Linked DNA regions of Homo sapiens: regions 2 and 3 are each linked to region 1. The links come from fine-mapping of genetic effects on gene expression. A gene starts in region 1. Each other region holds a variant in brackets. All regions are shown on one strand. Distances are between the middles of the regions.

Region 1 (9,009 bases):
AAAAAATAAAAATAAAAATAAAAAAAATTAAAACAGGCAACCAAGACGAGAACTAGTATTTGGTTTAGAAGCAAGATAATCCTCTACATAACCTATGTCTACGTAAGTTTACAAACCAAATTAAAAATCCACCAGTGTTTCTCTCAGTACCTTTCTTACCGGACAATTAACAAACAAAACCTAGGCAGGTGGATCCTTTGAGTCTAGGAGTTCAAGACCAGCCTAGGCAACATGGCGAAGCCCCATCTCTACAAAAAATACAAAAATTAGCCAGGCGTGGTGGCACGTGCCTGTAGTCTCAGCTACTAGGGAGGCTGAGGTGGGAGGATCAACTGAGCCCCAGTGGTTGAGGCTGCAGTGAGTTGTAATCACACACCTCCATTCCAGCCTGGGAGACAAAGCGAGCCTTTCTCAAAAAACAAACAAAACACCATCTAACATGAATGTTGGCATTAGTACAGTAAAAAGTTGTAACTAAGGCACTCTAAGTCTCTCTACATACAAATATACCGGTGGAAACGGAAAAAGAAAAAATTCACACCACCTATTGCATAGCATTTGGAAATGATTATTAACTTAGTTCCCACGAATGCCTTTACGAAAGCCAGAAATAGGAAAGGAAGGAGTATAACTGGAAACAAGAACAGGTGTGAAGCTGAGGTGGAAACAAATTAAGAACTTAGGCAAATATTCAAGTTTCTTAAAATCTTCAAAGAGCACTAAAAGAACTCAGACTTCAAATAGAATTACCCTACCCAATGAATTAGTTACAATGACAGCACAGGTCTTATTTTAAATAATGGCAAAATAACTTTTTTGAAGTAAGCTATTACTTATTTTTTAGCTCAACATTTATGTGCCAAATTAAGGAACACTAAATTTACAACCTAAACCAAAGATCAAGCAATCACTTTCATAATAGTCACTTATTTTAGGCCAGGCGCAGTGGCTTACGCCTGTAATCCCAGCACTTTGGGAGGCCAAGGTGGGCAGATCATGAGGTCAGGAGATCGAGACCATCCTGGCTAACACGGTGAAACCCTGTCTCCACTAAAAATACAAAAAAAAAAAATTAGCCGGGCATGGTGGCACACGCCTGTCGTCCCAGTTACTCGGGAGGCTGAGGCAGGAGAATGCTGTGAACCCAGGAAGCAGAGCCTGCAGTGAGCCGAGATCGCGCCACTGCACTCCAGTCTGGGCGACAGAGTGAGACTCTGTCTCAAAAAAATAAAAATAAAAATAAAAGTCACTTATTTTATTCCACTAAAGTAAAAATGAAGTAAATTAATAATCCACAAGTTCACATAAATGCAAACTGGTCAAAGTTAATACTTGCACAAAGGTCTACTTTTTTCTATTTCCTGGTTTACTACTAAAATTAGCCACAACTTAAGTACAAAGGAGCGTTGCTATAAAACCATCTTTCAGAGTCCATGTTGTACGACATTATATACGAGACTGCTTTATGACTAGACTTCTTCAGCAATGTACTGTGGGTAACCAAACACCCTTGGCTAGGATCCTCTTTTATGACAAATTCCAAATTCAAAATCCAAATATTAAAAGCAATCTTCAGCACAGTTGATTGGCTTTTCAAGGCCCTTTTAATCTCAAAATACCAAGCTAAACTGGCATAAAGTTCATCTGTATGTGTATATTTCCACTTGTTTAAACACAACAATATATATGCAATGTGGAATCCTGGACTGGATCCCAGAAGAGAAAATGGACATTAGTGGAAAAGCTGGTGAAACGCAAACAAAGTCTGGTTAGTAATGTCATACCAATGTTCATGTCTTAATTTGGACAAATGTATCATCATTATCCTAACATTAGGGGAAGCTGGATGAAGGGTATGAGATTACTCAGTTCTGTATTTCCAACTTTTCTATAAATTTAAAATTATTCCAAAATACAATTATTTAAAAACACAGCTATAACCTCTCATAATTCCCAGTCATTTGAGTAATAAAAGATTATCTAAGCCCATGAACTCATGTGAATTTCCTTTTCTAAGATGTGCTGAAAAGATGTCTTAAGTTCATATTTGCACTGGAAAAATAAATTTTTAGCAAATTTTCTATTTGCTAAGGCAAATACACACAAGCCAGTCTTACCAATTTTACTCAAAGTGAAAAATCTTGGGTGCAGGTACCAGACATCATAAATATATGGTTTGGGTTTTTTTTTTTTTTTTTTTTTTTTTAGGCAAAACTATTTTCATTTTACTATGATTGGCAAATTATGATGTATTTGATTGATAAATCTCAGATTTATCAGATTGATTCTAGTTCGTCTTCATGTGGCAGAATATGTGTTGTCAGGAGTGATTTGGTAATTCAGAAAAGCAGCTGAAGAAGCATGGAAACTTCCCTACAAGTATATGGCCACAGCTGGCTAAGGTTGGAGACAGTATTCTATCCTTGGGCCTCAGACTCACATATGTATGTACATACACATATTATTCACCCATATTTCCTTCCTTCTCCCCTCCCCCATCTGTAAACTGATATCTAAACTTTACAAATTACAGTTACAAGAAAAGTTTTGTTCCATTTGAAATACAAAAAAGATCAGGAGAAGCAATCTGCTTTTTAATTTTACTTATGCAGTAGTTTTTTAAGATACAGTCAATTTGTTTTGGCACTTTGGAACTAGAGGGATACAGTTCATAAAAAAATCTACCAACTCTCAGCGAAGCTGAAATGAGGTGAACAGAAGGCGTACCAATCCATAAATGTATTTAAAAATAACAAAGCCTAATATAATTTTACATTTTTACATGTTAATCTGCTTATGAAAAAACAAGACATTAAAACTATTCACATCCCCTATAACGAAGCACTAAAATTACAAATTATTTACCAGTAATAGCTTAACATTGGTTTAACTTAAAAAAAAAAAATACCTGGACATACTAAGCATTTGTTGTAGACTATACCAAATACCAAACTTCTGTCTTCAGTGACTATTGAAAGTATCACTCCACAAATCAATTCCTATGATCCACCACACACACACACTCAAATGAGGGTTTTCATTATTTTAATAGGTGAACAAATCTACACAACAGTGATGACCCAAATGTAAAATTCACAATTAACAGTCTAAAAACTGTTCCTATCCTATTGGTATTAACCCCTCATATAACACAGGCGAGCTCCTCCCCTTGCCCAGACACTGAAAACACTACAGAAAGAATCCCACCATATCTTACCTGACTAGCAGTCGTAATAAAATGAAAACATACTTTTGCCAACCAAATTCAGCTATAAGTATTGTACTACTAGTATGCACGTAAATACAATTCCTTACACATACTTTTCTAACACTGTTATATTCAGTTTCAAAATCTAAAGTACTATCTAAGCAACTTGCTGATTTCAAAGGCTGCTAAATGTTTCATTTACCCCCCTTACAAAAAAAAAGTCACTGCAAATTTTAGTAGTCTGCAAAAACTAAAATTCAACGATTTTGAATGGTCAACTAAAAAAGCAGTCTTCACTCCTGCATACAAAAGGGTAATTCAAAGAATAAACCCTCATTTTTTTTAATAATGTATGATTTAAAGCAGTAAGATCCTGTAACGTCCAACAGAAAATGCTCCAGGTTCAAAAATAATAAAAACTAAAGACATTGCCTCTAGTTGATACTATCTATGGCCGATAGGCTGTGCTTGAAAATTTTGTAGTGTTAAGCGAAGGAGTTTTCAGCACTGATATGAATTGCTCAAACATCCATTTTGGAGTCCTCTACCCCCGCCCTCTCAGACTTCATTTTGTGAAGATTTTGCGCGAGGTGCTGCAGTGACAATTTCGAGAAAGCCTGGGCTGGCTTCAGATCCAAACCGGGATGCGAAAGAGCAGGAAAGGGCGCCCTGGAGCCCAGCGGCCCGTGCGGGTCGGGGGAAGCGCGGGCGCCGGGGAGGCCTTTTGGGCAGGCGCGCCACGGGTCCGGGATGGCGGGCGCCCGGCCTCGGCGGGGGCGGGCCGCGCGCGGGACTTACCGCTCCGGCGGCGGCGGGGGCCCCGGCTGCGGCGGCCGCCTCCTCCTCGTCGTCGCCCGGCGATGGCGGCCCTATCTTGCTGCAGGTAGCGGCCAGCAGAGCGAGCGGTGACGGCTGAGTGTCCTACCCCCAATGGGCGGGTTCAGAGAGGGAGACAGGGGGAGGGGGTGGCGGTTAGGGTCGGGCCGCCTTTCGCACAGGAAGTACGACTCGGTCCCCGCCGACTGCGCCCGGGCAAGCGCCAGCCCGCGCTCTCCTCCTCCTCCTCCTCCTCCTCCTGGTCCCGCCGCCAGCCCACGCCTGGCGTCCCCCGCTCCAAGCACCCCGGCTCCCCGGTCCGCGGGCAGGCGGGCGGCGGGCTGCGCGCCGGGCCTCCGCCTTCCGCCCGGAACCCACCCCCGGGAGGGCACGCTGGGGCCCACACTCACACGCGCACAAAAAGGCGGCAGGCGGGCGAGGCGGGGCGGCGCGGGCGGGGTCGGAGCGTTGGCGCCTCGGGCGGGCAGCTCCCGGGGCGGGGGGAGGGGAGTGGAGGGGAGGGGAGAGACGAGGAGGGAGGGGTGAGGCGAGGAGGGAGGGGAGAGGCGAGGGGAGGAGAAAGCGGCGCGAGGGGGGAGCCGGGCCGGGGTTCAGCCGCTCCTCACCTGGGCCGCCGCTGCCGCCGCCACCGCACCGTTTCCGTGCTGTTGCTGCTGCTGCAGATACTCGCCGTGGCCGCCGCCGCCGCCACCGCCGCCGCCGCTATCCACGTCCAAGGCAGCCATTTCCTCTTGTTTCACGGGCTTTTCGGGAGCTGCAGGCACAGCGCGGGGGGGTGGGGGTGGGGAGGAAGGCGGGTGGCGGAGAGGGAGGGGGCCCGCGGGCCGAAGCGAAATTACTCCCAAAGCCCGGACCCAGGCCCCTTCCCCTCCCCCACCCGCCCCCCGGCGGCGGCGGCGGCGGCGGCTCCCTCCTCCCCTCCTGCTGCTGCCCCCGCCCGCCGCTGCCTGTAACCCTCCTCCTCCTCCTCTTTCCCTCCTCCTCCTCCTCCCCGCGCTGCCCCTGCCCCCTCTCCTCTCCTCCCCTTTCCCTTCGCGCCGCTCGCTCTCACTCGCGCTCGCTCCTCTCGCACCGTCAGTCACTCACACACGCCCGCCCGCGCCCGCACACAGGGGGATGCGCTCCCGGCGGACCGGGCCGCCCGCCCCGGGGCCTGGCGGGGAGACGGCGTTGCTGGGGCTTCGGGGGTGGACGGTGGCTGGCGGGGAGGGGAGGGAGGCGCAGGGGAGTGCAGCTTTCTGCCTCTCACAGACACTCGGTCGCACACACGGGGCCGAGACCGGCGGCAGCGGCCCCGGGCTGGCTGTGGTCGGCGGCAGCGGCGGCGGCGGCAGCAGCAAGGGTTGCTCTCTCGGCTTTACGTACCGGTCATAGTGTGTTTAGGGCACCTCAGGCGGGGCTCCCCGCCGCCTTACACATGGTGAGGAGCGAAGGCGGCGGCGGCGGGAGAGGATGCGGGAAGCGGCGGCGGACACGGCCGGAGCGGTCCGGGGATTTTTTTTTCCTATTTTGATTGACTGTGCGGGAAACACAAAAGGTGGAGCCTCCAGCCCAAAAGGGGGGAAGAGGGTGACAGCCCGCCCGGAACTCCCGCCCCTCTTCTTGGCTCTCATTCGCCGCCGTGCTCTTTGTCGGCTGTGCTCATTGGTCCAGGCGCCTGTCCGTCGGTCTGCCAGGCGGCGCGCTTCCTGTTTGCCCCCGGGTGGAAGGGGAGAGACAATGAGCGGCCGTGGCAGCGTAGGTTTTCGAGAGCGGCTACGGCTCGCCGGTTACCCCGCTGTGCCCGCCTCCCTCGCCGGCTGCCGCTGCCAGGCCCGAGGCGCAGGCCTCCTCCACCTTGCAGGCGCTCGGAGCAGGCCTAGCCAAGCTGTAGGGGAGCTGAGCTGGGGAGGAAATTCGTCCCCGGTGACTCCTGCTCCACTGGACGCTTCCTCCATCCCGGCAGCAGTCTTGGCCGGATCTCCCCAGGGCCTCGCGCTCTTGGAGCCGCCGCTTCCCTGCGCTGCCAGGAGGCCACCGCTGCTCAGCCCCGGGGCTGCTGCTGCGGCCGCTGCCGCTACTGAGCAAACCAGACCCGCCCCACGAGCCCGGGGGGAGGGAGCTGGTATTAGGGGAGACACCCCCTCCGAGGCTGGAGGAGGATTTTTCTCTCTCACATCCAGCTTCCTGATTCAGTCACAGCCATCTCGCTCCCAGCCCCCTTAGCCCCAGTTTTCCAACCGGTCTCCCACTTTCACGTACCCTGAAGGCAGGCATTTAAAGCAAAAAAGAAATCTCAAGTCACCTCACATACGGAAGGAGAGTTTTAATTTTGGCCAGTGGCACCAAAACGGGCACTTAAAAGTATATTTCATTTTACTTGTGGTATGTGTATGTATTCAGTGGGGCAGAATTCTGTGTTTTAAAAAATCGGTCACATAACCATTTTGCTGCACAAACGTATTATTCCCGGCCTCTTTATCCTCTTGGTACCAAGTCAGATATCTCCTGAAATAAGCCCATCAACCACTGCCAACGTTTTTTAAAGTCGTGAACCGGTGAACTACCTTTTTTCCCCCATTGGAACATTTTTGTTGTATTTTAAAATCTTGTTTCTCTTACTGGATTAGGTTAACACTCCTTCCTTCTTTGGCATCCTTGGTATCTTGCTGTCATCCTGGGGGAAAATGCTCAGGTTTTAAGTGTGTGTTTTGCCAACTAAGAGACATCTCTCCCTGTTACCTTCAAGTATAGTTGCCAAGAAAGAAGTTAAATTCAAGAGGTGGAAACACTGTCCACAATACCTGTTTTTTAGAAATCTGGCTCAAGATTCAGTTTTCCCATTACTGTGATTATTATATTTTGTGTGATATGTGATGTGCTGGTGGATGAGGTTGTGAAGTCCAAGCACTTTAACCAGATTTTGTGTGTCCTAACTTAATAGGTAATCCATTTGTGAGATACTGAGTTTACATCCCAGTTCCAAAGCACTTAACCGCCTATGCTGACAGGATCAGAAACATTGTATGGTTACTTTGCTCTTAATTGTACAAAGATCAAATTTCCAGGGAATTAACCTAAAAACCACAAACATGCGGAAACGAGACTCAAAATTCTGAGTCCAAGAATAGGGTTCATCTCTTCTAATAGTCCTTGTAGTCTCATATTTAAGTGGAAAAGTCACTTTCAAAGTTGAGTCGTATAACCTATGTACTATTTTACAACAAAAACTTTTAAGGAAATAAAAGTCACAAAATAACCTGATTTGGGGTGGGGAAAATGGAAAAAGAGATGGGTGCCTTGAAGAGCGGGACAGGTGAAAATAAGTGGACTGGGAGGGAGGAAGGGAAGTCACTATTATCACTCTGTTCCTACCCGGATCTCTTGGGTGGAAGGTAGCTCTTTCCCTAGAAAGGATATTTCAGGCATTTTCAGTTTTGTTTTGTTTTTTTTTTCAGGAGTGGGGATATGTTCTACGCTATCGCCATACCCTTTTTGCAAAGTGTTAGTCCAGCCACCTTGAGAGCAAAGTACTTGGCCACAGGAGTTAAATTCGTTTCTTCATTGATACCAATTGGCAAATGATATGAGACATGAATTGTCTTTTTTCTTTCTTTTTTGGGGGGTGGGGACGGCACGTCCGCAGACCATTTTGACAAGCAAAAAAAACACTTCTGAAAAAGAAAAAAATAGCCTAGCTGAGCGTGGTGGCTCACACCTGTAATCCCAGCACTTTGGGAGGCCAAGGCAGGCAGATCACTTGAGGTCAGAAGTTCGAGACCAGCCTGATTGCCATGGTGAAACCCCATCTCTACTTGAAATACAAAAATTAGCCAGGCTTGGTGGCGCACACGTGTAATCCCAGCTACTCAGGAGACTGAGACGGGAGAATCACTTGAACCTGGGAGGTGGAGGTTGCAGTGAGCCGAGATGGCACCACTGCGCTCCAGCAAGACTGAGACTGTCCCAAAAAAAAAAACCTACCTGAACTAACTATACTGCTTTTGATGCGATGCTTTTAAGAGATACATATGGAGGTAGGGTGACAGAGGTTGGTTAATTGGTACAAACATACAGTTAGATAGAAGGAATAAGTTCTAGTGTTCAATAGCACAGTAGGGTGACTATAGTAAATAGCAATATATTTTATATTCCAAAATAACTGGAAGGGAAGATTTGAAATGTTCCCAACACAAGAAATGACAAATGTTCAAGGTGACAGGGGAGAGGGGGCGGAAAAAAAATGTCCAAAGTGATAGATACCCTAAACACTCTGATTTGATCATTACAACACTGTATGCATGTATCAAAATACCACATGTACCCCATAAATATGTACAAATATGTATCCGTTTTTTAAATTTTTTAACAAAAGATGCATATACCAAAAGCATCACTCACTACTTTAGTCAGATTCAGAGAACCCTCTTAGACCACACTTGAGTTATTGTCATGGAATAGCTTTTTAAAATGGCTGGAAATGAAGATAGTCTCTTGAAAGAACACCTTTTCCTACCTATTTCAGTATTGTAGTCAAATCTTGAAATACAAATTTTTTTTTTCAATGGCATGGTCTCGGCTCACTGCAACCTCCGCCTCCCGGCTTCAAGTGATTCTCCTGCCTCAGCCTCCCCAGTAGCTGGGATCACGTAGCGCCCGCCAGCATGCCTGGCTAAGTTTTGTATTTTTAGTAAAGACAGGGTTTCACCATGTTGGCCAGGCTGGTCTTGAACTGCCGACCTTGTGATCCGCCCGCCTCTGCCTCCTAAAGTGCTGGGATTACAGGCATGAGCCCGGCCGAAATACAATTTAATTAAAATACTTATTTTCTTATTAGAAAGCTGCCTCTCAATGGCACCTACTGCTACATTTACATAGTAACCCAAAATTGCAGTTGCTTAGCAGGGAGAGAATCACAGTGCTGGATATTATTTATACTTTTTCTTCCAAAACGATTTGAGGAAGTACTGTGCTGGCCATTGTTT
Region 2 (10,348 bases), 96 kb after region 1:
AATTTGCTTCCTTTTTTTTTTTTTTTTTTTTGAGATTGAGTTTTGCTCTTGTTGCCCAGGCTGGAATGCAATCACGCGATCTCTGCTCACCGCAACATCCACCTCTCGGGTTCAAGTGATTCTCCTGACTCAGCCTCCTGAGTAGCTGGGATTACAGGCATGTGCCATCATCCCCAGCTAACTTTTTGTATTTTTAATAGAGATGGGGTTTCTCCATGTTGGTCAGGCTGGTCTTGAACCCCCGACCTCTGGTGATCCGCCTACCTCGGCCTCCCAAAGTGCTGGGATTACAAGCATGAGCCACCGCGCCCGGCAGAATTTGCTTCTTGATTCATTATGATATTTCTGCATAGTTCGGGTTGATTATGCCTATGCCAGAATCTGATCTATATGGCATAACATACAGAAGGAATAAAAGACAGGGTCCCTGTGGTAACCAGCCTCTAAGATGGCCCCAAATGATTCCTGCTTCCTGGTATTCATGACCCTGTGGAGAACTGATGTAGGTACCCAATAGGATATTTTGGAAATGACAGTGTTTGACTCCTGAGCCTGGGCCATAAAAGACCTATGGCTTTTGCCTTGCTCTTGCTTGAGTCACTCACTCTGGAGAAAGCCAGATGCCATGTTATGAGGGCTCCTGAGTGGCTCTGGGAAGTAGCTCCACCAAACAGTCCACATGGTGAGAAACTGAGTAGCTCCAGTTTTGCGGTCACGAGAGTGAGCTACCTCGGGAGTACTGTCTGCAGCTCCAGCCCGGCCCTTGGATTGCTGTGCACAGATGAGCTGCTTCCACCGACTTCTGGCTTGCAAAAACTGCTAGGTCATAAATGTTATTGTTGTTTGAAGATGTAAATCTGGGGTGACTTGTTATGCAGCACTGTATAACTAATACAGCACCTAATCTATAAGAGCTTTATAACTTCACAGGGGAGAAAAGATGGATCTGAATATGTAAAACTGTGAAATAAACCAGTATGTATGAACCATATACCAACTGTCACAAGTTCTGAGAAATGAGAGGAGGAAAGAAGGAGGCTGTACAGTTGACAAACAAGGACCCCCAATTAGGAGGTCAATATTAGAAGAAAAGGAGGTTCGAAGAAAGGCAGGACCACATCTTGGGTTCTCTCCATTTTTGTTTTTTGTTTATTTTTTTGAGACGGTCTTGCTCTGTTACCTAGGCTGGAGTGCAGTGGCATGATCTTGGCTCACTGCAGCCTCTGCTCCCGGGCTCAAGTGATCCTCCCACCTCAGCCTCCCTAGCAGCTGGGACGACAGGTGCAAACCACCATGCCTGGCAATTTTTTTTTTGTATTTTTAGTAGAGACAGGGTTTCACCATGTTGGTCAGGCTAGTCTCAAACTCCTGACCTCCTGATCCGCCCGCCTTGGCCTCCCAAAATGCTGGAATTACAGGCATAAGCCACCGTGCCCGGCCATTTCCTTTTTGAAGAAACCAAATTCTTGAGGAGTTTATGCAAATATTCTTTGCAAAATGTGAAATGCACTTGAAAATCAAGAATACATCTTTAGCTGGGCACAGTGGCACACACCTATAGTCCCAGCTACTCAGGAGACTGAGGTGGGAAGATTGCTTGAGCACAGGAGCTGGAGACTAGCCAACACAGCAAGACCCCAACTAGGCAACACAGCAAGACCCCATCTCTGAAAAAAAAAAACCCTAAAAATAAAAAAATAGATATATCTTTAAAACAACATGTAAGTCAAACAAACTACTTTTGGTAAGGAAATTCAGCCTTATAAAAGTGCAAAAAATTTACCAAAACACAAAAGTGGTTTACCAGTCTGTTACATACCATCATCTATGCTGGGTTGAGAAATTAAAGGATATTTATTTGTCAGATTGATTTAAATTAAAGAATAAAATAACTCAGTTCCTGGTGGGTTGGTTTCCACACTGGAGCAATGGAGAGACTCCTAAAATAAAGGTAAAATAAAGGATATCTATTTAGATGAGAGGAGGAAACAAACAAATAAAAGCTCCTCAACCAACCAGAGAAAATTAATCCCTCTTTCCAGTCTTCACTGTTTTTCATTTTGCTTTGCTTTGTTTCCTTAAGGAAATTTAAAACATAGTGGAAGTCACGATGGCATGGAAATGATGGCTGGGAAAGCATCCCGGTACCTTTTCATGTTGCCTGAATCTCGCTCAAGATATCAGTTTCCAATGGAATGGGGAAATCTGTGTAAACCAAATAGAATATTAAAGTACACGAACAAGCAGCCTGAAAAAAAAAGTTCAATAAAGTAAATGAACAAATATATAAAACAGATAGCCAACTTCACCAGTAAAGAAATGCAAACTAAACCACAAGGAGATTGAAATGTTAAAAATCGATTGGATTGGTAAAGACTAAAAAGGTTGATAATGCTCAGTAGTTGGGGGTCTGGGAATCGAGCACACCATGGGGTGAGGTGGGAACGTTAACTGGTACAACCATTTTATTTTATTTTATTTTATTTTGTTTTGATTTATGTATTTATGTATTTATGTATGTATGTATTTATTTTTTTAAGACAGAATCTCCCTCTGGCTCCCAGGCTGGAGTGCAGTGGCATGATCTTGGCTCATTGCAACCTCTGCCTCCCAGGTTCAAGCAATTCTCCTGCCTCAGCTTCGCAAGTAGTTGGGACTACAGGTGCGCACAACCATGCCCAACTAATTTCTGTATTTTTAGTAGAGATGGGATTTTGCCATGTTGGCCAGGCTGATCTCTAACTCCTGACCCCGAGTGATCTGCCTGTATTGGCCTCCCAAAGTGCTGGGATTACAGGCATAAGCCACTGTGCCCGGCCATGGTACAACCGTTTCAGACAGCAATTTGACACCACCCAGCAATGCATACCCTTTGATCCAGCAATTCCATTCCCAGGAATTTATCCTAAATGTGAAAGTATATGTAGAAGCTCAAGCATATTCACTGCAGCCTTTTGGGAATAATGGGAAAATTAGAAATCTCAATGTACACAAGAGAGGGCTGGCTACATAAACAAATAAATGAGAACAAACACGTGGTGCCTGCTTATTCTGTGCCAGCATTCTTCTAGGAGCTCTATGCACATGAAGTCACGTGATCTCTCAAGATCCCTTAGACTTGGTTCCTGTCTTAGGAGAGTTCAGCCTTACAAACAAATATCACTCAGCCATCAAAAAGCTCAGGAATAGGTCCAGATGTGCTGACACAAAAAATACTCATGACATGGAAGTGATAAAAGGAAGTTTCAGGGAAAGCTATGGAGCACAATCTCATTTATGATTTAAAAAGAGACTGTGCATACATGTTTATATTTATACAGAAAATGTCTGGAAAGATAAACCAGAAGGAAACAGTTAACAGAGAAATCCTCTGGAGAAAGCCAGGGAAGGGAGGAGAACCCTCCATTTTTTACCTAATATCTTTCTTTTTGGTTTTATTTTTAAAAAATAAAGCCCAGAGTCAGCCAAACTGCAAAGGCTGAGGTCACAATTCCTAACCCTGCTTTCATTTTGGACACTGACCTCAACTTTGGGGGATTCCCCCAAACTACTCTCAGATTGGATAATTCACTAGGAGGACCCGCTGAATTTATTGAAAGCTATTATACTCATGGTTTTGATTTATTATAGAGAAAAGATACAGATTAGAATTAGCCAAAGAAAGAGACACACAGGGCAGTCTGGGAGGCTTATCAAACATGAAGCTTCCATTGTCCTCTCCTGTGGAGTTAGAACACATTACCTTCCTGGCATCTGTGTGTGAGGATACACCTTGAGTACTGTCAACCAAAGAGGTACAAGCAAATTTCAGTGTCCAGAGTTTTTATTGGAGCTTCATTCTGTAGGCCTGATGGGTTTATTGATTGCCCACATGGCTGATCTCATTCTGAAAGTCAGCTGACACTACATGACCCAAATTCTCACCCTAAATCACACTGCTGGGTCTTTCTGGCATGGCCAGTATGTACCCCAGGATCCAGTGTGGTTATCTCATCCCCTAAACCAAGATACTCTTATAAGTTATGACTGAGGTTAATCCCAGAAGCTGAGGGCAAAGGCCAGATCACCCTCTGGGCAAGACCAAATGCTTCACTACACATTGTTAGAATGAAGACATGGAATAGCCATGTGGCTAATTGTTTTTCCACGTGCTGCCTGGTGCATGGGCCAGTTTCTAAGCTGTGTGTTTATGTAAGATGATTCATCTTCACTGAGACGCTCTGATCATGTGGACTTTTGTTTTGTGTTTTCTTAGATTCTGTATTTGTCTGTTTGGTATTCATTAGTCACAAGGCCAAATTAATGGCCATGATTATTTCTATTTCCTCTGCAATCCAGGTTTCCCAGATGCACAAAAATCATATTACAAACCCTCTAACCAATCATTTGAGTCCATACTCCCAAACACTTCCTTATCTCACTCTTACACACCAGCCAGTATTTCCTCTGCCCGAAATCACCCAGGGCCAGGTACCAGACAACTACAGACCACTCCTATAGCCCAGAGCCTGCCCAAATTATTTGAAATAGCCAATCCTACACTGTTTCTCCTGCCCCGCCTTGTTTTTCCCAAGGCAACCGCAATAAACGCTGTGGCCTGGGCTTTCTTCTCACCACTTCTCCTTCCTGACCTAACCTGGTGCTTCCCCATGTGGCCCTGCATGCATGATGTGCCCTCATCCCTTGGCAAATACAACTCATAAATTCTTCTTCCAATGACATGGCCTCTCCATGTCATCACTCAATCCCCTCCCTGAATTAGAATCTCCAGTAAAATTGAAACAACTTTTAAATCTCTGATCTACAGGCCTGGGTTTCAGTAGGTCAATAGTCCTTACTGCCTGGTGCAGGCCTGGGCTCATGCATACTTGTTAAATCTAATGAACAGTCTGGGTGCAGTGACTCATGCCTGTAATCCCAGCACTGTGGGAGACAGGGGAAGACAGTTTGCTTGAGCCCAGGAGTTTGAGACCAGACTGGGACACATGGCAAAACCCCATCTCTACCAAAAATACGAAAATTACTCAGGCATGGTGGCATGCGCCAGTAGTCCCAGCTACTCAGAAGGCTGACACAGGAGGATCGCTTGAGCCCAGGAGGTGAGCTGTGATGGGGGCCACTGCACTTCAGCCTGGGTGACACAGCAAGACCCTGTCTCAAAAAAAAAAAAAAATATAATAAATTTTACACTATCAGTTTTTGCTCTAGTGATGAAGGAGATAAATTATTCATCTTGCTTAATGCAATCAGTACTTGATGTGGAATCTGAAAATATGTTAAGCTACTTTCAGAAATGCTCATCAGCCTGCATATCTGCACTGTAAAAGTTCCGTCCTAACTTGTTCAGTGTTCTTTTATCACCCTCCTTTCTCCTCCTTCTTCCCCACACCCTGCCCCTAATTCATTTAGTTAAGCAAATAACCTGTATCCACTGCCAATAACTAAATCTGCCTGGATCACCTTAGAAGCTAAAACCCAGAAT[GA/G]AAAAAAAAAGTTATGCTTCTTTCATTTGGGCTTGTTGCATGGTTTACTTTAGGCTCTGAGTAAGTGCTATTTTATTATTGTTTTTGCTTGTTACTATCAGGGGATTTCAGGAACTGATTTTAATATAAATGCCTTAATTGTACTCTCAGGAAAAGATATGAAAACAGAAAACCTGATAAATCAGTTGATTCTGTAACTCTCCACATTGTTGTCATCTGTGAAACTGACTTAGCAGTCCCCACGATGAGGTCTGGCCATATTCCCACATTTTCAGGGACACAAGGTGTAAAGATATGAAGGAACTGGAAAGGACAAAAAGTGTGAAAAAATATCAACAAATTTAAGCCTCCAGTGATAAATATGGGTAAAGTGCTGAAGTGATAGACGAATAAGGTTAACAAAGGCCAAGCCATAAAGGATGAGGAATATTTTGGGTTTTAATAATACAGGTGAGCTTTTACAGAAAAAAAAGTTACTGCCTCAGGCAAGAGTAACTGTTTATGGTGGGTTTCCAATAATTCTCAAAGTTTGATCCAGTTAAGAACTCAAATTCTGAACCAGAAAGTTTAAAAAACATTTTAAAGAAGAAAACCTTAAAATAGCTATTTAGGCTGGGCATAGTGGCTGATGCCTATAATCCTAGCACTTTTGGGAGGTCGAGGTGGGAGGATCACTTGAGGTCAGGAGTTTGAGACCGGCCTGGGTAACATAGCAAGACCCCCATCTCTACAAAAAAATAAAAAAATAGTTGGGCATGGTGGTGGTATGCGCCTGTAGTCCTAGCTACTTGGGAGGCTGATGCAGTAGGATCACTTGAGACCAAGAGTTTGAGGCTGCAGTGAGCCATGATTGTACTACTGTACTCCAGCCTGGGTGACAGACCATGACTTTGTCTCTAAAAAATTTTTTTAATAAAATAAGATGGTTGTTTAGAAATACTGACATTCTCTTCTCTATAGATGAGTTATTAAAACATTATTTTATTTTTAATATCCCACTTAGCCAAACTGCACTAGAAAACCAGAAGAATCTAGTTCTAGAAAACACTTTGCTTTTGTAATACTCTTCGGTATTTAACAGTACTTAACAAGCTAGTAAGGAACCATAGCTTTACAGCCAAGTGGGGGATGGGGAATTGTTTTTGCTAAGCCAGGATGAAGGTGTTAGTTATATATGCTCTTGAGCATAGCAAGTTCTGTGAACTCAGATGTATCTGGAGGCTTTTAGCCACAAGTTACAGAATATTCAACTACAAGTGACTGAAATCATGAGGGCATTTAATTCTTACACAAAAGATGACGTCTGTGGGCGGCTGCTCCAACCCGGATTGGCTAACAGTCTAGGGGCTGCTTCTCTGCCTCTCGGTTTTCCTTTCCATAGCTCCAAATACAGTCCTTCATCAAATCTATTTTCAAATAAAAAAAAAGGAATGATGTCCAGCGGGCCCTGGAATTCACCCCAAGCCCTCGCAGGAGGAGGAGGGTGAATGGATAGCTTGGCCAGGCACCGTGGCTCACGCCTGTAATCCCAGCACTTTGGGAGGCTGAGGCGGGTGGATCCCTTGAGCCCAGGAGGCAAAAGTTGCAGTGAGCAACCCCTGCACTCCAGCCAGGGCAACAGAGCAAGACCTTGTCTCAAAACATTAAAAAAAAGAGACAAAATGGATAGCTTTTCTTGTCTCCCTTTTTGTATCAGGGAGGAAAAATTTCCCTGGCAAAGCTTTGCCAAGCCTGCTCCCCAGACCCTCATACTTTCCAGGCCAGAGCTGGCTCACCTGCCTAGCCCTATCACTGGCAAAGGAGAAGTGGGATATCATGATGAATTTAGAGCCATAATGATTCATTTTCTGAAGCTGAGCACACTCGCTGTCTATGGAGCAAAATGAGATTTTGTTGGCAAGGAAAAGGGGGGTGTGGTGGGTTTGTGAGACGGCGATGGTTAAACAATCAATAGTGTTTGTGATGTCTGGAGGCATTAACAGGTGAAAGGTGGGACCCTGGTCCCAATGCCTGAGTTCATCATTACTATTCAATGAGTGCATAATAAGGAAATACATCTTCCATTTGCTATATTGTGAAATTGGATAAAGCCCTCAGTCAAACCAGATATCCTACGTGGCTTTGTAGGAGTTAAGTCACAGAATAGGCTCCTTCCTTGGAAATAAAACTTGACCAAGTCTCTTCCCTAGAAATACAGTTCTTCATTAAATCTATTTTCAAGTTTAAAGTAATGATGTCCCAAGGTCCTTGGAATTCACCCCAAAATGACGCAAATACAATAAGCCAAATGGCTGAAATCACTTACACACAACATTTGACCAAAGCAAATCAGCTTGCTCTCATGCTGTGATCAGAAGAGCAGCAAACTGGAGGCTTTGTTTGAAGCAAAAAGAACACTGAATTCTAAAGACAAGGATCCTCAGGGGGAGAAGAGAGAGATTAGTAAACAGGGTTAGTTAATCCACTCAGACAAGAGCCTCAAAAGTTCAAGGGGTGGTCTGTTGCCTGCACTTCCATGGGATTTCAAAGGATTGCAGTGAGAGGCCGGGAACCAAACACGTCACTCTCCGCAGCCGCTGTCCCATTTATATCATTGATATCAGCAGCCAGGACTGCTCTATTCTACGAAAGGGATGGAACTTTCTCGAAGAAGTGTAGTTGCCCCAAATAGAGACTGCTCAGATTTGGCGGGCCTCTTGAGAGCAAGAACTGAGGAATCTTATCACAAAAATGGGAAGATAAAAGGCAGAGCCTAATGAGAGAACACTGAAACCCTCGTATTTTTTATTCCCTGGAGCAAAGTAAAGAACAGGCATAGAGGAGTCAGAGGGCCTGGTTCTCCTAGGACTGACCCCCACTGGGAAGCGCTGTAGACCGCCCAGGTTGATAAAATGTTGTCACCCTGTGAAAGCAACACAATCCAGTAACTAAAGCGTTCATGAACGGGGGGCCCTGCAGGGTTCTGTGTTAGCTCTTGGAATCTAGGTTCAAAAAACAAAAAACAACAGGGCACGTTGAAGAGGGCTGTGTCAAAATTTCTCCTTTCCCTTCACACCCACGCCTTCCACACCCACTCTGCTGATGGCGTTCACTCCAATTTCATTGAGAAAATGGAAGCTACACATCTAGCCCTGCCTTCCCTCCTATTTACTGGAAGCATTCCTGCTTCTACCAACTGTCAGTCCCTCCACCTATGCTCCAGTTCTCATCCCCTGTAGCTTCTTAAGGACTGGGTCTCTTTCGTCACCCCTCTCCCTCTTGCTTCATCAGCCTCCAGCTCTCCTCCTCTCGGGAACATTCCCCTCAACATCCAGACATGCCCCGGCACGCTCCGTTGCTAAAAAATCTACAGCCAGCCAACCAACCAACCAACCAACCAACCAACCAACCAACAAAAAAACCTCTTTGCTTCCCATCTCCCCCATTTCCATTTCTCTTGTCCCCTTTCTGGCAAAACTTCTCAAAAGAGTAATCTGAACTTGCTTTCAAATTAAACAGAACTTGTCCAGCAGCACCTTTTTTTTTTTTTTTTTTTTTTTTTTTTAGAGTCAGAGTCTTGCTCTGTCACTCGGGCTGAAAAGCAGTGGCACAATCATCACATCCAGCTAATTTTTAGTTTTTATTTTTTGATAGAGACAGTCTTGCAATGTTACCCAGGCTGATCTTGAACTCCTGGCCTCAAGTGATACTCCCATCTTGGCCTCTCAACGTGCTGGATTTTTTTTTTCTTGTTTTCTTTTTCTTTTTTTTTTTGTTGAGATGGAGTCTTGCTCTGTCGCCCAGGCTGGAGTGCGGTGGCGTGATCTCGGCTCACTGCAAGCTCCGCCTCCCGGCTTCACGCCATTCTCCTGCCTCAGCCTCCCGAGTAGCTGGGACTACAGGCGCCTGCCACCTCACCTGGCTCATTTTTGTATTTTTAGTGGAGATGGTGTTTCACCATGTTGGCCAGTCTGGTCTCAAACTCCTGACCTCAGGTGATCCGCCCGCCTCAGCCTCCCAAAGTGCTGGGATTATAGGCGTGAGCCACCGTGCCCCACCCTCAAGCAGAACATCTTTCATCTTCATTTTTTTCAACTGCTCAGCAACATTTGCTGTCTTCTTGAAACCGTTTCTGTCTCCCAGCTGCTCTGACACTAGCCTCTCTGGGTTTGCTCCTCTCTCATTGGCTTCTTCTTCTTCTTCTTCTTTTTTTTTTTTTTTTAGACAAGATCTCGCTCTGTTGCCCAGGCTGCAGTGCAGTGGCACCATTTCTGCTCACTGCAACCTCTGCCTCTTGAGTTCAAGGGATCCTCCCACCTCAGCCTCCTGAGTAGCTGGGATTACAGCTGTGCACCAGCACGCCTGGCTAATTTTTGTACTTTTAGTAGAAATGGGGTTTCACCATGTTGGCCAGGCTGGTCTTGAACTCCTGGCCTCAAGTGATCTGCCTGCCTCAGCCTCCCAAAGTGCTGGGATTACAGGCATGGGCCACCGCGCCCGGCCTCGGCAGTTTTTTTGCTGCGATTTGCTGGCCCCTCCTCTTTCCAGAGACCTTTTGCATCAGGCTCATTTCTGGGCCTTCTCCTCTTTCTGTTCTCACCTGTCTAAGGTGAGCTATTCTGGCCCTCAGGTTTTAAGTAATATCCATATAGTAATGATTCTAAATTTATATACCTGCTTCCTCAAACTTTCCTCTGAGCTTCCAATTGAGACACAACAATTGGTCTTGGTATCTACCCAGTCTGATATCTACCCAAGAGTGTTTAATGGCCATCTCCAACCTATCCTCAAGACATTGAATTGGGTTGTTCGTTTTCTTATTTTTGAGTTTTAAGTTCTTTGCATATTTTGGATAACAGTCCAGAAATGTTCTTTATCAGATATGT
Region 3 (10,348 bases), 36 kb after region 1:
CCCAATAAGGTGAAAGCCATGAATTAGAAGGATTAATCTGGTTCTGACATGCAGTGGGGGCTAGAAGTGGAGGGACCAGAGACCACGGGACTAGACAATGAGTGTATTGATCAGGTGAGAGCACAGGGGAACATGCCTGGGAGGACCTGGGGAGCTCTGATTGGTAAGCCAGGGTAAGAGTCAAACACAGACTTGTGTCTTCGTTAAAGAGACAAGAGAATTGGGCATCCAATTATGACTGAATCACTTACAGCAAGTAGAGGACAGCAGGGAAACATGCAAGCTATCTTCCTCACAAGAGCACCTGGATACAGAGATAATTTGAAAATATTCAGCTCAGTCTCACTACACAAATAATTACTTTGAAAAATTTTTGGTCATCAAGTCAAAGGAACCAGCCACTGGTCTAAGCAAGTGATTGCAAATGCTTTTAATGATCTTCACTGGCCTAGAGAAAAAAACCCTCAAATTAGAGCAGTTCCTTTCTCAAACTTAGGTGCATCCTCTTGCTAATAAGAGTCAAGATCCGTAAGGCAGCCCTTACATGGAAACTTCCCCAGCCACATGGCAAACTTTGGTGAGAACAATGGCAGAGTGCACTACTTTTTGGGAAGTGCCACAGTGAGTTCAGCACCAGGTACACAGAAATGAGTGGTTCACAAATATATGCTGCCTTGACTTACTAGTAACTGAGAGAGCTTCCTCCGTATGTCCTAAACAAAGTTGACACTTAGCTGCTTCCATAAACGCTCAAAGAATGACTGGAACCCCAAACATTTGTGTTCCAACACCAGTACTCAGACTATACTTTGATCACATACACCCACAGGGATTTTGTCTTTAAGAAATGCACCTAAAAATAATAATAATAAAAATAAAAGGAAATGCACCTTAGGGTTGTTGGATATTGGTAGTGTTCTATGATCTGAAGAGGATTTGAAAGTGCAGATATTTAGATGTCCATCCAATCATTCAACAAATGTTTACTGTGTGCCTACTACAAACCAGGCACTGTTTATGGCACTAAAAATATGTCAGTGAATAACACAGGCAACCCTGCCTTTGCGGAGGTTACCTTCTAGTAGAAGGAGACAGATAATAGCTAGCAAATGTAACAAATAAGTAAATTCGTAGGTTGGAAAGTGATATGTGCAATGAAGAAAAGCAATAGAGTGTAGAGGCTGCGTGTGATATCACAATTTTAAATAAGATGGTCAAAGTAGGCATTGATTGAGATGTGACATTGATGAAAGACCTGAAGGAGACAAGTGTCTATGTTGCTACTTATACTTACATTTAAAGTCCTTCCTAAAACTTCAGACTTAAGGCAAAACCAATGCATCAGCTTATATCTGGTATAAGCAAAGTTGGGGACTTGCCCTCTTATCATGAAACTAATCAGACACATATTTTATCCACTTGCATTTAACAACAAAAGCCATTAGAAAACCTAATTTTCTGAGGCAGAATGTGTTAAAATACCAACCCCCAAATCCTTTTGGTGTAACAAAGCTCCCCTTGTAAAAACTCTGGCCCTACTTGTTGGTGCCACTCTCTCTCAGGTACCATTCTTTCTCTGAAGACAACAATAACAACTGCTCTCTTATCAAGATTAAAAACAGAAACCAAATTTTTGTTGGTGATAAACAGCCAACAGCTAGTCTAAGCATTAATCCAGTAGTGTATGAATAAGTTATGAAAATTCTCTTTGCCAGAAAAACAATCAACTGTCTCACTGCTCACCTATCAGCCTTTATTTCCTACTAGGTACTATATTTATGGCTCCTATCTAGAAAAAAAGAAGTTGGGAACAATTCAAGCTTAAGTGCATATTATTGAAACTGTAAATCTCTATTCCAGATTGTAAGCTATTATCATATACTTATTTTTAAGACTTTCAGATTCCAATGTTTCTCAAATGCAGAAAATTATCTTACAAGTCAGCAGGTCAGGGTTTGATCTTGAACAGAACCAGTTTAGAGAAAGTTCCCATGGGGAGCTTTCAAGATTCCTGAACTACAACACATGTCTGAGAAATTAGAAAGTCCACAGCAAGTTTCTGTTACATGGATTATAACTGAGTTTGTGAGTGGTTGGTGTTCGCTGCCACTAAGTGGCCTTGCTCAAAGATTCTGCCCCAGGCCTCGTGTGGTAGCTCATGCCTGTAATCCCAACATTTTGAGAGGCCAAGGTGAGCAGATTGCTTGAGTTTGGGAGTTAAAAACCAGCCTGGGCAACATGGTGAAACCCTATCTCTACAAAAAATAGAAAAATTAGCCAGGCATGATGGTGTGCACCTGTAGTGAGGCAGGAGGATGGCTTGAGTCTAGGAGGTGGAGATTGCAGTGAGCCGAGATCGCACCACTGCACACCAGCCTGGGCAACAGAGCCAGATCCTGTCTTAACAAACAAACGAAGACTCATCCCCAACACCACCCCACGTGTCTACCGCCTGCCTGCATGCTTCTGGCTGCTCAGCTGTCTGCACTTCTGACTTTGCTCAACACAGCTCCGGCCTTTGCCAATCATGAGCTGCCAAGACTAGAGTGTGTGGCTGAAACACTTGAACACTCACGTGAAAGAAACTCAACTTCTGCTTTTGGGTAATTTGCTGACAGTTGCTTTATTTCCTTTTCTTCTATTAAGCAATTCTATTTGCACAGAAAAATATAATCAACAAGTGATTTTCTTAAGCAAAAGCATAAAACAATGATAATAAAATAAATGATGACAAACTTTTACAGAACCTACTCTGTGCTCACGGGCACACTTGGCAGTGTGTTGTGAGCCCTTTCAGAGGAGAAATGATAAAGAACTTAAATTTTTTAAAACTATCTTTATAAAGAAAAAGAGCACAGTTTAACTGTGATTTGAACTGACAAGAAGTACTTCTTGTTTCAAGCGAAAATACTTTGGACCACTGGGCACATTAGGTATTGAAATGTCAGGTTAACACTGAATACTCCTGTTTATTTTCTCCATCTTTTGGCAGATGCTCAATTCCAAGGCTTGGTGGAGAGCCAATGTATCCTGTTAAAGTACAGCACACACACACAAAATGGACACTTTCTTTCACAGGAAAGCTCAACATATAAACACTTTCCCTTTGACCTGTCCGTTCTCCAGGCTTCATGACTTTCTACATTCACCAAGCAGCCCTGTATCTCACCATAACCTTGACCATCCTCTTTTACTGTGTAGGCTAATTAACTGTGACAAGATGAAGTGACTTTGCCCAAGACCCAAGTGCAGGTGTCAGTACCAGACTAGAACTCAGGTCTCTGGCTCCAGGCTAGTACTCTTTTGTCCAAAGTTACACAAGTAATTAACAAAAGGTGAAATGATTTCCCCTGCTTTCCAGCTTCCAACACCCGGCTTCCCCATCTTCTCTCACCTCCTTCAATGAGAATGTCTTACTGCCGTAACACGCATTTGTACCCAGTGTCTCTTTAATGTCATCTGGTTGAGTGCTGCCTTTCCTTGCATGCAGGGCTGATATTCAAAATATTTCACAACTTGGGTGGCCTAAGCACTGACCAGTCGGAAGGAACACTGGTTTCCTGCTGGATTGAGGAGCTGGAGGCTCCCTTCCCCGCTGCAATGGATCCCCTTAGCTGCAAGTGTGTGAGGAAGTCAGAGGAATCCCCGGAAGCCCTGCTTAGAGGCAGCTTCAGAAGGGAAACTCGTGAAGGGCCCAGGCTTCTGTCATTTGTGCACCATATGCACAACCCTTCTCGTTTATTATTCACTCAGCAAATATTGATTAAGTACCTACAATGTTTAGAACCTTATGGGAAAAACAAAGTCAGTAAGACATGCCCTTATGCCTACTTTATTTCCTGGTATAATAGATAAGAAATGTACATCAATAGCTATAATTGAAATAGATTATAGCTATAATTGAAATATAGCTGTAATTGAAATAGCTATAATAGAATGTTGTTTTTTTTTTTGAAGACAGGTCCAGGAAAATGGGTATGGCAGTTGAAAAAAAAAAAAAAAAAAGAAGGATTCTTTCTGGTTGTAGATCATAGAAGGCTTCCTGGAGGGCTCGTTTCAGCTGTGGCTCTTCAAGGGTGGGGAGGATTTGGTGAGGAGGAGCTAAAATGGACAAGCAGTCCAGGCTGTGGGAAGAAGATGAGCCGCATGCACAGGTAGGAAGTGATAGGGCAGATAAAGGTGATAGCAGCAGTCCAGCCCGGCTAGACTGAAGAGCACACTGGTGGCACCTGCACGGGTGTCAGCACTGAGTAGGTATAGCAGACAGGTTAGAGTGGGGTCCACCGACCACAAGCTCCCCAGCAGCACTCCTGGGCAGCACTCTCATTTCCGCAACTAGCCAGGCACCCTTCTCCCTGGTTCTGACCAGGCTAGAGAACAAACAGGCACTTGCCAAGCAGTGTAAGGGATTACATGCCCTTTCTGGGCTCTGAGGGGCCTGGGAAGAGTTGGCAATTGAAGGCCGTGCCCAGAATCACTGCCTGGGAACAGCAGGCATTCTCCCAGGCTGCTTGGAGGCAGCCCAGTGCTGGGTCTGGCTCTAGTCCAATCCGGCTCCTGAGCTAGGAGGGAGTATGTGGCAGTGGGCGGTGGGTGCTCCCTAGTTCCTAGCACTGACTCCACTGAGCCTGTAGATGGGAAAGGGGAGGGTCAGTCAAAGGCAGATGCCGAAAAAGGGGTAAGTCGAGAACACTGGAAGAAGTCATTTGAGAAGAATGAGTGATTCTCAGACTGTTGTGGATAAAATGGAGAAAGAGATAGAAGGTTGCTTTTCCTGTCTCCTGTAGTATTTAAGGATCCCTCATGATTTAGTTCAATGAGAGAAACTAGCAACATGCTAATTGGAAAAGCCAGGGGCTCTGGAGTTCACGGATCTGGTCCAAGTCTCTTCCTTGTCAAGTGGAAAGGGCATCCTATTTACCAAGAAATGATGCAATGGCAGGGAGGGTTCACAGCTTCAAAATGAAGTCTAGGAAAATGGAAGTTAGTGAGTAATAATTTGTTGGTGCTTCTTCACCATAATGCAAGAAAGATGGTGCTCTGTTCTCCATGACGGGTAGAATCTTTGTTTGTTTGTTTTGTTTTGTTTTTTGTTTTGTGACAGGGTCTCACTCTGTCACCCAGGCTGGAGTGCTGTA[G/A]CATGATCTTGGCTCACTGCAACCTCAACCTTCTAGGCTCAAGCAATCCTCCTACCTCTGCCCCGCAAGTAACTGGGATGACAGGCGTGCACCACCACACCTGACTAATTTTTGTATGTTGCCCAGGCTGGTCTCAAATTCTTGAGCTCAAGTGATCCACCTGCCTAGGCCTCCCAGAGTGCTGGGATTACAGGTGTGCGCCACCACGCCTGGCCTGACTGGTAGAATCTTAAACAGAAATACTTGTGCCACAAATGCAGACAGGATAAGTAACTGCCCTTGTCTGAGTACCGTATTCCCTGGGAACAGCAAACTCCCTCTGTTCTTTTTCTACTCCCACCAACCCACCTTCTAATCTGCAACTCAGTTTCCTGAGTGGGCTTGCTTTAGAGCATCCTGTATCTATAAACAACCACAGTTTTCAAGCAAAGCCTTTGTCTTATTGCATTGTTTTTAAAGTTGGATTCTTAAATAATATTTTCAGAGGTCCATGAATTCTTTAGAAGAATTTTTAAATGTGGCGTTTTCATTTTAAAGATAATATAAAATTTTTAACACAAGTGTCACCACCTTTTTACAGAGTACTGCCACATAACATCAATGCCCATGCTGGATTTGCATTCATGACTGTTATGGTCAAGTGATCTAAACTAAAGTCTCCTAATGGAAGTTTGAATGCAGTGTTTCTCAAGTTGGGACATATTCAGGAATTTACGGGTTCTCACGTGTGAGAAACACTTCCTATTATAAATAATCTGACAAACTGATTTACACATCAGTCTCTTATAAGTTTGGATATGATGAATTGATCCTTTCTAGTTTAATCTCCTTGAGCACAGGGCACAGTAGTTATTGTATCTGTAAAGCTGAGGATCAGATCTGTGGTGTCCGTATCAATAAATTGCCAATCAGTGAAGCAGCCAGCCAGATTGTCTCCTCCTGAAAAGCCCTACTCTCTTCTATGTGACAGACGGATTGCAATTAGTTAATCAGACAGACTAATCTTAGATTCGAAATAGAAGACTTTTCTGACCCTGAGTAAGTCCCTTAATCTCTGTTTTCAACTTTGTAGAATACAGGCAATAAACTACTACCTATCACATGGGGATGTTGTGCTAATAATTTCAGGCTTTCTGCCATGCTGAGCTGGTCTGGCCCTGCTCCTGATACAGTGCTCTAAGGAGTTTGGCATTTGCCAAGAGACCAATTCAGTGAGATGGGAGAGGCATAAGAAAGAATGTTTTGGAAAAGTCGTCCCTGAGGTCTGAGGTCTGAGGTCTGAGGTCTAGTGCTGGTACAACTGTGAAAAGCTTCTTCAGGTGGTGCTAGAACAACAGAACATCCACATGCAAAAAAATTAATCTAGATACAGACTTTACACTCCTACCAAAAATTAACTCAATAGGGATCATAGACCTAAATGTAAAATGCAGAACTATAAAACTCCTAGAAGATAACATAGAAGAAAACCTACATGACCTCGGGTATGACAATAACTTTTTAGAAACAACACCAAAGGCATGATCCATGAAATAAATAATTGCTAAATTGGACTTCTTCAAAATTTAAAACTTCTGCTCTGTGAAAGACACTGTCGACAGAATAAGCCAGGCATAGTGGCTCATGCCTGTAATCCCAGCACTTTGGGAGGCCACGGTGAGAGGATTATTTGAGGCCAGGAGTTCAGGACCAGCCTACACAACATAGTGAGACCCCATCTCAATTACAATAATTAAAAAAAAATAAGAATGACAAAACAAGCCACAGACAAAGAGAAAATATTTGCAAAAGGCACATCTGATAAAGGATTGTTATCCAAAATATAAAAAGAATTCACAAAACCCAACAATAAGGAAACAAATGACCAAATTAAAAAATGGACCAAAGACTTTGACACCCACCAAGGAAAACATACAGATGGCAAATGAGTACACGAAAAGATGTTCCACATATGTCATCAGGGAAACGCAAATTAAAACAACAGAGATACCACTACACATCTATTTGAATGGCCAAACTCCTGAACGCTGAAAATATAAGATGCTAGCAAGGATGTGAAACAACAGGAACTCTTGTTCATTGCTGTGGGAATGCAAAATGGTACAACCACTTTGGAAGACATTTTGGCAGTTTCTTACAAAACTAAACATACTCTTACCATATGATCCAGCAATCACACTCCATGGTATCTACCCAAAAGAGTTGAAAACCTATGTCCACACAAAAACCTATGCACAGATGTTTATAGCAGCATTATTCATAATTGCCAAAACTTAGAAGCCACCAAGATGTCCTTCAGTAGGTGAATGAATAAATAAGTTGTGGTATATATCCAGACAACGGAATGTTATTCGGTACTAAAAGGAAATGAACTATTAAGCTATGAAAAGACATAGAGGAACCTTAAAAGTATATTAACAAGTGAAAGAAGCCAATTTGAAAAGGCTATATGCTGTATGATTCCAACTACATGATATTCTGGAACAGGCAAAACTTGAAGAGAGTAAAAAGATCAGTGGTTGCTAGGGTTTGGAGGGAAGAAGGAATAATAGGTGGGGACACAAAGGATCTTTAGGACAGTAAAAATACTCTGTATGACACCACTGCATAATAATATACAAAGTATATATAATTATACACTTGTCCAAACCACTAGAATGTACAACACTATAAGTGAGCCCTAATGTAAACTATGCACTTTGGATGATAGTGATGTGTCAATGTAGGTTTATCAGCTGTAACAGATACCAACCCCTCTGGTAGGGGATGTTGATAGTAAGGGAGGCTGTGCATGCGTGGAGGCAGGAGATATATGGAAAATCTGTACTTTCCTCTTCATTTTTCTATGAACCTAAAACTGCTCTTTAAAAAGTCTTAGCCAGGCACAGTGGCTCACGCCTGTAATCCCAACACTTTGGGAGACTGAGGCGGGTGGATCGCTTGAGGTGAGGAGTTCGAGATCAACCTGGCCAACATGGTGAAACCCCACCTCCACTAAAAATACAAAAATTAGCTCTGTGTGGTGACACACACCTGTAATCCCAGCTACTCAGGAGGCTGAGGCAAGAGAATCGCTTGAACCTGGGAGGCAGAGGTTGCAGTGAGCCAAGATCGTGCCACTGCACTCCCGCCTGGGCAACTAAAGTGGCCTTTGGCCTTGAATAACACCAGTGGCAGTCACGCAGATTGGCCATGGCCCTTGGGTGAACCCCAATGTTGTGCTGGTCTTCAGGGCTTCAGATGCAACTCAGCATAGTTGCAACTGTGGTGGCTACAGGAGTGCCTGTGTCACCCACCTCCAACACTGGGCAGGCCAGTACAGAGAAAGACTCCTGACTGAAGGAAAGGGAAGGTAGAGAGCAAGAGACTCTGCCTGGTAACCTGGGGAATTCTCCCAATTATCTGCCCAAGTCCATCAAGACTGTGTATGTAGGAGTAAAGTCTTTCCAAAAGTTTCTCTGGCAAACTGCATCTGAGAGACTTCTGCGACTCCGGATCAGAATAGCAGTGAGCATGCTTTTGGATGCAAGTAACAGAAAATAACCAAGGGAGCTCCTTGGTGATGTAACTGAAAGTGCAGAGGTAGATCGGGCTTCGGGTGTCGATCCAGCGGCTCACCGCTGTCCTCAGGACCAGTTTCTGCCACTCTGCCCTGCCACATGCAGCACTGGCTCCACCGTCAGGCTGGCTCTGCTTCTGGGTGTAGGATGGTGGCCAGAAACCTGCAGGCCATATGCTGTATCATTTGGGGATGCTTCTGCTCAGCATTCCAAGCCAGAATTCCAAGGTTTATCCTGAAGAGGATCCTCCTTGACATCTCTTTTCTCTCACATTCAAGTCTGTTAGTCTTTTCTCTCACATTCAAGTCAGCTGCCACTAGCCTACTGCCAGCCACCAATGTCTCCCACCCGGCTTAGCGGCTCGCCTTCTAAACAGTCTCCCTCCTTCCACACCTGTTCCCCTTACAGCAGCCTGAGTCATACTTCAAAAATGTAAGCCAGATAACGATTGGAAGCGACAGACGCTGGGGAGCCCAATAGTGAGGAGGGTGGGGGGTGGTGAGGGTTGAAAAATTATCTATTGGGTACAATGTTCACTGGGTGACGGTTTCACTAGCTCAGATCACAATATTACACAATATATCCATGTAACAAACCTGCACAGGTACGCTCTGAATCTAAAAAAAAAAAAAAAAGTCAGTCAGAGCATGTTACTGCTCAAACCCTCCAGTGGCTCCCCATCTCACTCAGGAAAAGCCAATGAACTTGCAATGGACTCCAAGGGTATGATGTGGCTCCCTTGTAACCTTTCTGAATTTAGCTCAGCCACCCTCTCCCTCTCTCACTCCAATTCAACCATCCTGGCCTCTAAATTGTTCCTGGGAAACATACCAGGTGTGTTCACCTTCTGACTGGGGACTTTACACTAGTTGTCTCCTATGCATGAGACACTTTTCTAGAGAGCCACGCTGCTCACTTTTCAGTCACTTTTTCAGTGAGGCCTACTTAGAACACCCCATTTAAAATTGCAACCTGGCCCAGGGTGGTGGCTCACATCTGTAATCTCAGTACTTTGGGAGGCTGAGAAGGATCACTGGAGTCAGGAGTTCCAGACCAGCCTTGGCAACAAAGCAAGACCTCATCTTTACAAAAAGAAATTAAAAAATAAAACACTGTGACGCCTGCAGTTCCCCACACTCACATCTTCTATCTTGCTTATTTTTTCCCCATAGTACTGCTTACCTAGTATGTTTATGGATTTAACTCACTGTTTTTCCCGGCTAGAATGCAGGGATTTTTGTCTATTTGTTTTATTGACATTTCCCTGACCCTAGAACAGGGTCTAGCAGATACTCAAAAAGTTTTGTCAAATGAATGAATGAGACTGGCTCAGGACACCCACTCTATTTCTGTATGCTTAGGGAGGAAATGCCTAAATCCGAAATGCTGGGAGTGTTTCCAAAGTAAGACCAAGCTTGATGTCTCCAGAGCTTGGAATTTGGATTCTGCTCAAGAAAAAAAACTGGTAAGAATCAACAGATAATCCAGGAGGTTAATAGTACCTGTGGTGCTTAGTTAATGTGATCATTCTTGGATCACACAAGATACCACAGGTATCCAAGATACCAAGATATCATAGATACCTTGGATACCACAGGCCTACAAATCAAAATCTCCAGAGACAGGGGTCATAAGTCTGCTTTTCTTTCT

Which allele goes with the higher level. Positions count from the first base shown, and alleles are read on the strand shown. Sizes are in standard deviations (SD) of each study's normalised expression. Not every link is listed here.
For the expression in tibial artery of the gene that starts at base 5,619 in region 1, allele G in region 3 goes with a lower level than allele A (moderate effect, 0.48 SD a copy in GTEx).

What was found. PIP is the estimated chance that this variant, and not a neighbour inherited with it, causes the effect. A credible set is the group of variants that fine-mapping cannot tell apart.
Region 2: its variant is the best candidate, but not a certain one, in a credible set for the expression of SP3 in whole blood (INTERVAL, PIP 0.75).
Region 3: its variant is the best candidate, but not a certain one, in a credible set for the expression of SP3 in tibial artery (GTEx, PIP 0.65).

The regions. Positions count from the first base shown.
Region 1 is chr2:173,959,755-173,968,763 of GRCh38, forward strand. SP3 (Sp3 transcription factor) reads right to left here and starts at 5,619. Exons shown (of 7, transcript NM_003111.5): 1 at 5,411-5,619; 2 at 4,651-4,799; 3 at 4,007-4,129. The coding sequence starts at 5,417. RefSeq lists enhancers at 3,310-4,133, 4,134-4,956 and silencers at 3,817-4,066, 4,197-4,686, 5,017-5,296, 5,797-5,866.
Region 2 is chr2:174,055,146-174,065,493 of GRCh38, forward strand. It overlaps LOC105373746 (a long non-coding RNA gene), which reads right to left and starts at 7,486. Exons shown (of 3, transcript XR_923589.3): 1 at 7,259-7,486; 2 at 6,773-6,889; 3 at 5,605-5,786. RefSeq lists an enhancer at 7,750-8,369. The variant GA/G (reference allele first, on the strand shown) is at 5,483.
Region 3 is chr2:173,994,980-174,005,327 of GRCh38, forward strand. No RefSeq gene overlaps it. Among named protein-coding and RNA genes, the nearest start is that of LINC01960, 25 kb to the right of the region's middle. The variant G/A (reference allele first, on the strand shown) is at 5,139.